Linked DNA regions of Homo sapiens. The protein of the gene in region 3 interacts with the protein of the main gene of each other region in a pairwise test. Each region holds a gene or a part of one and is shown on either strand. Other genes may lie near its edges.

Region 1 (3,650 bases), on a different chromosome or scaffold from region 3:
GAGTAAAACTTTTTTTAGAATTTTTAAAAATACTTTGATTCCCTTGGCTACAGTGATGTCTTCTCTTGGAAGGGAAGAAGTTACATTAATATTGACCATCCTAGATTCCCAAGAAAATTGTGAAGAATTATGATAGTCAAAACCTTTCTGGCTGCCTTAGAAAGTACCCACCCAATTTTCCAAAATAGGCGGGGCTACTGAATAAGACTAGGTTTATAAAATATTCATAAGAAATATAGAGTAAATAATCCAATAGAAGTTTGAGTTTTAGGATCAGCTTCTATGAAGCAGAAGATTTCACTGAGCTAGAGAATCTTTTCACTCCTTTGGAATTATTTGCAAAAGCACTTATTGTTAACACATTCTTAGCTCATGAGTTGAATTTGAGGCATAAGTACAGGTACGTATTGCTATGTATTTTTTGTTCTGTAGGTACATATTTTTATTTGACATGTTGGTAAAATTTTAAATTGTAGTTTGAAATATTAAACTGAGATAATAGTAAATGCATAATGTAATGAATTGTGAAGGTATATTTGTATACTACACCAAAATGGAAGCTGTTTTTAAATATATATATACAATTTTCTTCATAATAATCTTTGATTTATTCTTTTCTAGGAAACTGTAAGAAAGGTAAGAGTACACTACTTCTCCATAAATATCTAAAATTATCAGGGATAACATAATTTAACTAAATTTATAGTAGACTATAGAAGGAAAATACTTTATCAAAATTTTGTTCATATGAATATACATTAGCTAAAGCATAAAATAAAGTAGCTTTGATGTTTAAGATAACAAAGTTTAATTATCTTCTGGAATCATCTGTAATTACATTTATGTGATACAAACTGGTGATTTACATACAAAAGGAAAAAAAAAGACTTGTTTTTATTCTGGAGATGGAAGGCATATTATGTTAATTATAGGGAGTAAAAAAAGTTTATTTTAAAGGGCTTTGACTATATAAATGTGCTGTTAAAAATGTAACAAAATGATCATTTAATCTACAGTTATCATCTTATTCAAAATGCTATGCATAGTATTGACCTAATAGCTGAAGACTATAGCAGCTTCCAATCCTCCAGCTGAAAAAAAATTACGTATAATTACAATTAAAATATATACTTTTATCTATTGCATTGTGTCAATTTTTTATATGCTATCTAATAACATTGTAGTTACATCAGTCTTACCAACTAATTATTATCAAGAATGATTTGTTTGTTCACTGGAAATTACTTCTTAGGCATTTATTATTGTCCTGTTTGTATCTTTCCTGTAGGGCCCAGCCGGAGATAGAGGACCACGTGGAGAAAGGGTGTGTAATTTTTGAACTATAAAGGGCTTCGTCCCGTATTTGAATAACTATATGTTAGAAACTACAGGAACTGGCAATTTATAAGAATATTATGTATCCAGATAATTGTACACCCCTTTAAACAGGTAATGCACTGCAGAAGAAGCGAATGAGCATTATTATATATGATCAATATTTGTTTTAGGTCAAAATTACCGTTAAAAAAGAAAAACTGTTACAGTCATATTCTTTGCATGGTCTACTTTCTTTATTTGTAATTGACCCATCCAACACATGCATAATGGAAATATATCTACCTACCACCACAGTCCTCTTTTTAACACATTTCATTTGCTTTTGAACTAAGATCCCTTAGGTAGCTTGGAAATAATAGTGAATTAGTAGTCAGTAACATGTTTCTCTGCTCAAATTCATGCATGTACAAGTCAGGCTTACATTTTATTTGTGGCATTCTTAAATCTCCCTGCTATGCTTATTTGACATTTATAACTATGTGGTTTTGCATTGTATAACACTTTTGCCAATATATGAATACCTATATCTTATATCTATTAGGAAGAGGAGACTTACATGTATTTCACTCAATTTATTAGAAATAGAATTAAATCAGTTAATTATTTTAACAATACAAGTAGTTAATGATAGTAAATCTGCAGGATTTTCTCTCCTATGATAAAGTGACCTTATTAACTGTCACATCAGTTAATTCATTCACATGTAACATACCAAAACAATTGAATCAGTTTGTCACAGTCAGAGATCGGCAATAAAAATACGATGTAAGTCCTTGTGCACTGTTAAACATATGAAGCACGTGGAACCATACATTTTGGCTATAATTTTTATATTTGAATACTGGAGCTTCAGTATGAATTAATATTCAATGGCCGAGATAGTTCTTTAGGAAAACTACCCTGTGATATCTTAAGAGTTATTAACCCTCTTTCTAAAATAGACTCATAAGTGAATTTCAATCAATGACAAATATAGTATATTAAATTTCCACCCTACTTGCACATAGAAAGGTCTGAACAACTGATCTTACCACATATAATTCTTAGGTTTCTACAGGGCCTGTCTAACCTGACCTTACTCACTTTTTACATAACAGGGTCCACCAGGCCCCCCAGGCAGAGATGGTGAAGATGGTCCCACAGGCCCTCCTGGTCCACCTGGTCCTCCTGGCCCCCCTGGTCTCGGTGGGGTAAGGTGTCTTACGTATTGCTAACTTTTAGCTAACTTCAGTTGAAAGAAGGTTTATTGTGGAATTTATTTTTAGCAGTTAAGGGATAATTCTTCCATTTGAAAATTAGTATATTTTATTTCATTTATTTGGTTTTTTCACTCAAGATTCTGCTTTACCCATTCTCTTTGTGAGCCCTTGTCAATTACAGGACTGGTCTTTGTGTGCACTGAAGTTAGCTGTGGCCATCATTACCATTATTTAATTTGGAGATTTAATATCTTTTATTAGTAAGGCACAAATAAGAGGTGTTGCATTATTAAGGATTTTGATTAGATTGAACTGTGTAAGTGAAATCCCTGATCTTAAGCAATTTTACAAACATCCTACGCTTTTTATTCTCCTTGACTTGAAGTCTGCTGAACCAACATTCAAAGCGGTTTTAGGTTTAATTTGCTTGAAACTAATTTGAGAAAAGTACATTTCCCTTTTTCATTAATATCTTCTTTTAGCTTCATGTCTTTAACAATGGTATGAGTGCCAAATGACCTCACTGCAGGAAGGAAAACATATTTGCTTAATTGGTTAGCACTATGAATCAGAAGCCTGATTCTAATACCCAACTGTATGTCAGTAAAATAAGACCTTTCTCCCCCAAAGATCTTATTATGATTGCTTATCTATGAATTGCATTAAAAAGCAGCTTCTTTAATAGAGCTACCACTATAAGAGAGATCTTTAACAGTAAAGTTATTACTGTGAACTAGTTTTTAGAAGTTTTATCTTCCAAGGGGTATTTTAATTTAATTTTCCTCTAAACTTGAAAACTCTTTATGCCCTTCCTGAAACTCCAGCAAGAAAAAGATCTCTTAGTCATTTTGTGTAGCTCCGGTGGGGAAGGGCAACAGGTGAAAATGTGAAGATGTCCTCTTGAGCTCTGTCTAATTTGTCAGGAGCCCTTAGTAACATTAAAAGTTTAGAAAGCTTCCCTTCCTCAGAGTAGAGGTAAAAGGTGGGAGTGGAGACACCGAGTTAAGGCAGAGGAAGGGCTCAAAAAGTAAAGTAGGGAAGTTCTCCATTTCAAAGAGGTGTCGGCCAAGTTTTTGACGTACAGCTCTCATAACTTTTTAGGAATTTAGTTCA
Region 2 (4,232 bases), on a different chromosome or scaffold from region 3:
GCACACATCTGCACACTTGCACCACTACAAGGTGCACACAGGCCTGGGCACACACATGCCATGTACTCGTACTACAGATACAGGCCCCCCCACACACCCAGCTGCTGAGCTGTGAGCCCACATGCACTCATGGCTGATGGTCTCTGGTGGGCCTGAAGAGATCTCATGCTCTTCCACTCTCTGCTTCCTGACTTCTGCTCTCTGGTTTTCTATCCTCTTCTTTCTGGGCTGTGGCTCAGCCAGCTCCTGGCCTGGGAGGGCTGCGTATAGAGAAGGCCCGGCTGCCTGAGCGCTGTCCTCGGTGCTGGAGTCCTGGTGGGCTCTGCATGCTTGAGGAAAACAAGCAAGGGCATTGGGAAGAGGTGATCTTGCTTGGAGGTGCAGATGTTCATGGGGTGCCCACCAGGATGCCTACCCTTATTATTTCAGAAAATGTGCAACTGGGCTTCCTCCTTTCAATGGCAGACACTGCAACAGGTGTCCAAGCCCTCAGCCCAGCAGTGTGGGCATCTGTGGCTGTGTGTGGCTATATGGCCATTTATTGTGGCTATGAGGGGCTTCTTGAGACCTCGTGTGCCACATACAGTTGTGTACGAAGATCATGATTTCCTCATGAGACACCTGTGATTCCATGTGGCTGCCTGTGACCATGTTACTACTGGTGAACACATATGGCAGCCTGTGATCACACTGAGTCTCCTGTGACCTTGCGTAGCCTCAGACCTGAACTCGTGCGTCCCCAGATGATCTGGGCACTATCTGGTCTAGCTGCCTGATTTGTCAGAGCCTAGGTGAACACTTGCCACTCCCTCCCCTCACTGGTTTGCAGAGGTGGCACCCGGAGGCTCCCCATGTCTGCAAACTCGGGTCCTAGGGGGCGTTGGTGTCAGCGGGCAACAGCCCACAGGAGTGTGCACCTCCTAGGACAGGTAACCGCGACCCGGCTGCCATTCGAGCCTGCCCAGCCATAAAACCCAGGCTGCGAGTCGCGCGGGGGCAGGGTCGCGTGTTGATGGGGTGGGTGGCGGCGGGGTGGGCTCAATGTCACGCTCTGGCGCTCGTCGCCCGTGCTCCCCCTTCCAGCCGGTTTCCGCAGAATGCCAGGTACTGACGTTGGAGAGCGGGGCCGGAGAGGGCTGGTTCGCTCTGCGGCCGGGCCCCTCCCCCGCCCGGGAGCTTGGCGGTTCCGACACCGCGGTCAGTGCGGGGCAAGCCCCAGACCCGGCCGGCCAGGCTGCAGGGCAGGGAGTAAGGCTCGGTTGCGAGTGCGCGCCGCGCCCTCCCCCTTGAGCCGTCTCCGCAGCGGCGCGGGGAGGCGGGAGCTGCGGGGCCGGAGGGCGGGGGCTAAAAATACCCGGCAGCGGCGGCGGCGGCGCGGCTACTGCTGGGGCTGCTGGGCTGCGGGGCTGCGGGGCTGCGGGTCGGGGAGGCCGGGCCGGGCCGGGCCGGGCCCCGCTGACCGCCATGCTGACCTTCTTCCTCGTGTCGGGGGGCTCCCTCTGGCTATTCGTAGGTAAGTGCCCGTCCTGTCCGCGTCCCGGACTCCCATCTCCCGCAGGCTATGAGGTCTTCGCCCGAGGTGGAGGTGTTACATCTCCGCGGCCGCCGAGCCCCCATCCCCTGCTGCTGAGCTGTCCCGTCAAGGTCCCCAGGGCCGCCTAAGTACACCCTCCGCCCCCAGTTCTCGCGGGCTCCGGGCCGGGTTTGGGGAGCACCTGGGTCTGCGGAGGGAGATATAGGGCTTGCTCTCTGCGACCCCACCACAAACCCCCGCCGAGTTCTTGCGTCCCCCTTCCCTGATGGCAAGGACCATCCGCGGATCAGATTAGGCCCTGAGCCAAGGCCAGGAACAGACATTGCGTCCTTGTCCATCTCCTGGGACCAGAAACCGAGGGTGTTGGTCCCCGAGGTCCCACAGCAGGTCAGCTATGTAACCCGGACTGACCTAGGCTTCCTGATCCCGGCGAGGGGCTTCCTCACGACCCCTCCCTGCCCGTCCTTCAGCCAGAGTACAAGATTTCTGTAAGGTAGGGTTCACCTGGCTCCTCTGCTCTGCCCAGGGCTGCTGTGTCTCCACTGTTTCCAGACCCCTCCCCTCCACCTCACAGGAGTCAGCTTCACCACTGCACTTCTTAGGCGGCTACAAGGACCCCTGCTCGATCCCGCCTCCGCGCTTACCTCCCTCAACCCCCCATACACCCACACCTGGAGTCTCACCACAGGCCCTTTTATCTGCCAGTTCTACCACCTGCACCGGCTACTTCCCCTCTCTGAGCCTGGGGTCCTCCAGAGTATAATACCACTAAAGGATCTCCACCTCCACCCCAACCCCCATGTGCAGATTCAGCCTGATAATTTGTGTGCAGTGCTTGATCCTTAAATTGGCCTTAAACCTGTCCTAGGCCACAGCAAATGCTCTATGAATGTTAGTGTTTATTATTATCTCACATTCAAACAGCACCATCAGAAGTGGTAATAAAGCTTTTTCTGAGCCAAGGAAGGGGAGGAAGTTGACCCTCTTGAAATCTTTACCTGAGGCTTTGTACGTGTTATTTAATATTCATGGAAAACCCTAGGAGGTCGGTGGCACCATCCCTTTTTTTACTGAGTTCAGAGGTCAATTGACTTGCCTAGTGTCACATGGATATTTGGCAGACTGGGATTCCATTCGAGGTTTTAATTGATCAACCAATGCTAAGTGCTTGGCTGGATCAGGCCTGAACCTGGAGGGTTGGTGGGCCTAGTAATCACTTCCTTCACCCCCACCATTTCCTTAAGTTAGGCCACAGGGACACTTCCCCTGAGCTGGGAGAGTGAGTGAAGCCTCCCTAATCCCCTCAGCTCCCTAAGCTCCTTCTGTCTGCCAGTGTCTGTGACTGGCTGTGCAGGGGCACTCTGGTCCTGAGGCACATCCAGCAGACAAGGGCAGGGCTAGAGCTGGGGTTGGAGGTAAAGGGCAAGGATAATTAAAATAATGGTGATGGTGGTCGTAACAGCCACCATTTAATGCCTGAGTGATGGATGGTCTCAGAGCCTCTCCCCACTGCCAGGACCCCTTTGCCCTACCCTCAGGAGGCCCCACCCAACCATGGGTCCAAGGTCAGCTCTCTGAAGACTTGATCTTCTGTGGCTGCAGGGAGGTGTCTAGGGGCTGCAAGACCACTTGTGACCGGGGTCATCAGCAGCCTGTGAGAAAAAGTCCCTCACCCTGTGGGGTCCTTGTCTGTGAGCAGGGTTAGCTGGCACTGACTCAAAGTGGAGTCCTGTTTCCTTGTGGAGCATTTCCTAAAGTGGTCAGCTCCCTCCTCTAATGGGAAACTGGGGAATCTGCCTCACTGAGAGACTATACAGGGCCTCAGAACCGTCAAGCAGGAGCGATTCTTGGGGCAGGTAGTGGCTGCTTCCACAGAGGCCGAGCTTCCCAATGCAAAAAGCAAGAGGCTGAGGCTGGTCTATGGTGCTTATTGGATAGAATAACCCAGACAATTGCTGGGGCATTTTAAGTTATGTATCCACCCTCCTTGAGACTCCACCTGGCCCCCAGCCTTTCTCTGGTGGCAGAAGAGACTCCTGAGTTAAGAGCTGTAGTTCTGTGAGCACACCTGAGAACATGCTCTGCCTTGTCATCTCCAGGGTCCCATGGTCCCACGGCAGCTGCCAGATCCCTTCCACTCAGCCAGTAACAGGAGGCAATGTCTCTCTTTAGTAGAGTTATGTGCTTTTTGCCACCTAACCTGGCCCTAGGGAGACAAGGTAGGGCCAGGCAAGGGTTTCCCTCAAGGGCCCTCAGGGAGAGATGACATAAAGTCGGGGATGGGGGTGTGGCAATGCACCAGGAGGAGGAGCTGACTGTTGTTTGTGGGAGGTAGCCATCTGTTCTGGGCTGTGTCTGTCCTGTTGCCTGCTGGAGAGGCCAGCAATGAGTCCTGGGCCAGCCCAGATCTCACCTGTGTGTTGAATACTAAACAAGGAGACAAGTAAAATAAGTCCAGCATGAGTCAGATGCTAGGTCTGGCTTGGGGAAGCATGCCCTCAGTGCCATAAACACCTAGAGGACAATGGGAGCAGAGGATCAGAGCTTCTGCCTGCCTGTACAGCACCTTTGTGCAAAGTAGGAAGAAGTCTCACTCTTGGTGGATAACTTTCTAAAAGGGCACACCTTCCTCTAGGCTAAGGCAGCCCCATGCCGCAGGGTCTAATCTGTTCAATCATATACCCAACCATCAGTGACA
Region 3 (3,650 bases):
CAGGGTATGGTGCATTTACACAGTGAGGGGTGGGGGAATCAGTAACATGTGAGGAGCCCGTCATGCCGCCACGTGGGAGTGTCCTCTCTCCTGCTCACAGGGAGTAGTTAGGACTGGAGATGAGCCCAAGTTTGTGAATCTTAACAAGGGTGTTGATGCCTCAAGACTGGACATAATCACCAAGGAAGTTGGTGGCAGTGCAGAAGTGCACACTGGGGTGCCAACATGAAATGGGGAATGAGAGGCTAGGAGGGAGTAGCTGGTGCAAGTAAAGATGGGAACACCTGCTGTGGGTGCTGCCAGGATGGTGCAACTCAGATAGAACTGACCACTAGGATTTGGTAGGCGTTGACACATAATGATGACATGTGGGGCTGCAGCACAGGCTGCCCCTGGCTGTTCACCCTTTGGAGCTGCTGTTCTCCCACTCTAGGTGGGTCTGGCCTGCCCAGCTTCAGAGCATTGTGAATGTCAGCAACAAGGAGTGAGAAGAGTGGTCACAGCAGGATACAGGCCCACAGCAGGATACAGGCCCACAGCAGGATACAGGCCCCACAACAGGACACAGGCCCACAGCAGGATACAGGCCCGCAGCAGGGTACAGGCCCGCAGCAGGGTACAGGCCCCACAGCAGGGTACAGGCCCCACAGCAGGACACAGGCCCCACAGCAGGACACAAGCCCAACAGCAGGACACAAGCCCAACAGCAGGACACAGGCCCACAGCAGGACACAGGCCCACAGCAGGGTACAGGCCCACAGAAGGGTATGGCCCACAGCAGGGTACAGGCCCCACAGCAGGACACAGGCCCACAGCAGGGTATGGCCCACAGTAGGGTACAGGCCCACAGCAGGACACAGGCCCAACAGCAGGACACAGGCCCAACAGCAGGATACAGGCCCACAGCAGGACACAGCCCCACAGCAGGACACAGGCCCACAGCAGGACACAGGCCCACAGCAGGGTACAGGCCCACAGAAGGGTATGGCCCACAGCAGGGTACAGGCCCCACAGCAGGACACAGGCCCCACAGCAGGACACAAGCCCAACAGCAGGACACAGGCCCAACAGCAGGATACAGGCCCACAGCAGGACACAGCCCCACAGCAGGACACAGGCCCACAGCAGGACACAGGCCCACAGCAGGGTACAGGCCCACAGAAGGGTATGGCCCACAGCAGGGTACGGGCCCCACAGCAGGACACGGGCCCACAGCAGGGTATGGCCCACAGTAGGGTACAGGCCCACAGTAGGACACAGGCCCAACAGCAGGACACAGGCCCAACAGCAGGACACAAGCCCAACAGCAGGATACAGACCCACAGCAGGACACAGGCCCACAGCAGGGTACAGGCCCCACAGCAGTACACAGGCCCCACAGCAGGACACAGACCCTGTGGGGGCTGCCCTCCTATCATGGCAGGTCTGGGCACCATGACCCACTTTACCTTAGGGTCAGCATCTTGCCCCTTTGTACTGTGGCCCTGGCTTTTGAGTCTGTGTCTCCATGGCTGACTCCCTCTTTTTAGGTCCAAGATCAGGAAACACAGCATCAGCCCCTGAGACCTGGCAGCACCAGGCCCTCTTCAGGTCTTGGGCTGCAGGGGTGGAGGAAGAGACCCCGGCCTGATGGGAGGATGAATCCCTAGAGCTAGCCTGTCTGTAGACTCACCTGTGTTCTTGCCGGTTTTCAGGTCCTTGTCATGCCCAGCCTCAGAACTCGCCGTGAGGAGGCAGAGATGGAGCTCTCAGTTCCAGGACCATCCCCCTGGACCCCTGCAGCCCAGGCCCGTGTGAGAGATGCTCCTGCTGTGACCCACCCTGGATCTGCAGCCTGTGGTACCCCCTGCTGTAGTGATACTGAGCTGGAAGCCATCTGCCCTCACTATCAGCAGCCAGGTACTTTAAGAACAGTTCTCCGCTGGTGCCCTTATTCTGGGGAAGTGATGTCCATGGAACCCTGTGCTTACCCCTAGGAGGCATCTGTGTCATCACAGGTAGGGAGGGTGACGGGGTACTCTGACTCAAGGAGCCAAGGCTGGATGTCAGCAAGGAAGTTAACCTAGCCTGGCCCCTGGCACCTTGAGCAGAACTGTGATTTCCCCACTTGACACGAAGAGGTATGACATGATGGCCACCAGCGTCCTTTGATTTGCCCTATACTCCTGACCCCTTCCCAATTCAACAACCAGGCTGGTGGCAGCCCTCTCCCCTCAGGACTCTACTCTGGTCCAGGGCTTTGTACTGTGGTTACCCATACAGTTGGCCATCTAAAGCCTAGGAAGAAAAGCTGAGGAGTTTCTTGTGGGGAAATAGAGGCATTCAAAAGCACCCTTGGCCCGGGTGTGGTGGCTCATACCTATAATCTGAGCACTTTGAGAGGCCAAGGCAGGAGGATTGTATGAGGCCAGGAGTTCAGGACCAGCCAGTATAACATGGCAAGACCCTATCTCTACTAAAAAATTAAGAAAGGCTGGGTGTGATCACTCTCGCCTGTAATCCCAGCACTTTGGGAGGCCGAGGTGGGTGGATTGCTTGAGGCCAGGAGTTCGAGACAAGCATGGCTAACATGGTAAAACCCTGTCTCTACTAAAAGTACAAAAATTAGCCAGGTGTGGTGGCACATACCTGTAATTCCACCTACTTGGAAGGCTGAAGCACAAGAATTGCTTGAACCTGGTAGGCAAGGGTTGCAGTGAGCTAAGATCATGCCACTGCACTCTAGCCTGGGCAACTGGAGTGAGGCTCTGTCTCAGAAAAAAATACATAAATTTGAAAAAAAAAAAAGCACCTATATATTTTGGGGAATCCAGGAAGTCACATGCATGCGCAGGACTGGGTGTGTGCTCAGAAAAGACCTGTTAAGACCATAAGCTTTCTCAAGAACTCTGTCTAATCTCTAGGCTCAGTGAAGGCAGTCAACTCAGAAAGAGTTGTAAACAGCGTTTAAAAAGTACCCCAACACAGAGTCAATCCACAAAGACTGGGAGAAGTGTTTTGTGTTGGTTTTTCTCTTGATAAAATCTCTGTCAAAACACTGGTTGAACACAAGCTAAAGAAAAAGACTTCAGTGACTGTACTCGACAAAGAATAGTCTTTGCAAAAATAGTTTGGAAAAGTCACTAAATGAACATGTGACTCTAGTCTTCAACAATCAAAAACAGCAAAGCCTGGAGGGGGGATACCACATTTTAATATTCAGTTGTGCAGTTTTTAACAAAGCAAAAATCATGAAGCATATAACGAAGCAAAAAAATATGTCCCATTCAAAGGAAAAAAGTAAACTGACAAAAAGTGTCCTGGAGAAAGCACAGACATTGGACTTAAGTAGACAAAAACTTCAAATCAACTGCCTCAAATATGCTCAGAGAGGTGAAAGAAACCATAGAGAACTAGGCTGGGCATGGTGGCTCACACCTGTAACCCAGCACCACGGTGGCTCACACCTGTAACCCAGCACCACGGTGGCTCACGCCTGTAACCCAGCACCACGGTGGCTCACGCCTGTAACCCAGCACCACGGTGGCTCACGCCTGTAACCCAGCACCACGGTGGCTCATGCCTGTCATCCCAGCACTTTGGGAGGCTGAGGCAGGTGGATCACGAGGTCAGGAGATCAAGACCATCCTGGCTAACAAGGTGAAACCCCA

What was found.
Region 1: the proteins of ZNF16 (region 3) and COL1A2 interact in a two-hybrid assay, tested with the Homo sapiens proteins (one study listed by IntAct).
Region 2: the proteins of ZNF16 (region 3) and ACSL6 interact in a two-hybrid assay, tested with the Homo sapiens proteins (one study listed by IntAct).

Annotation. Positions count from the first base shown.
Region 1 is NC_000007.14:94,397,761-94,401,410, forward strand, and holds part of COL1A2 (collagen alpha-2(I) chain precursor), read left to right. Parts: intron 1-621; coding exon 622-636; intron 637-1,288; coding exon 1,289-1,324; intron 1,325-2,435; coding exon 2,436-2,528; intron 2,529-3,650. UniProt on the Homo sapiens protein: Type I collagen is a member of group I collagen (fibrillar forming collagen).
Region 2 is NC_000005.10:132,008,786-132,013,017, reverse strand, and holds the start of ACSL6 (long-chain-fatty-acid--CoA ligase 6), read left to right. Parts: upstream 1-1,359; 5' UTR 1,360-1,464; coding exon 1,465-1,513; exon of another isoform or gene 1,514-1,562; intron 1,563-4,232. UniProt on the Homo sapiens protein: Catalyzes the conversion of long-chain fatty acids to their active form acyl-CoA for both synthesis of cellular lipids, and degradation via beta-oxidation.
Region 3 is NC_000008.11:144,944,260-144,947,909, reverse strand, and holds part of ZNF16 (zinc finger protein 16), read left to right. Parts: intron 1-1,694; 5' UTR 1,695-1,703; coding exon 1,704-1,899; exon of another isoform or gene 1,900-1,997; intron 1,998-3,650. UniProt on the Homo sapiens protein: Acts as a transcriptional activator. Promotes cell proliferation by facilitating the cell cycle phase transition from the S to G2/M phase.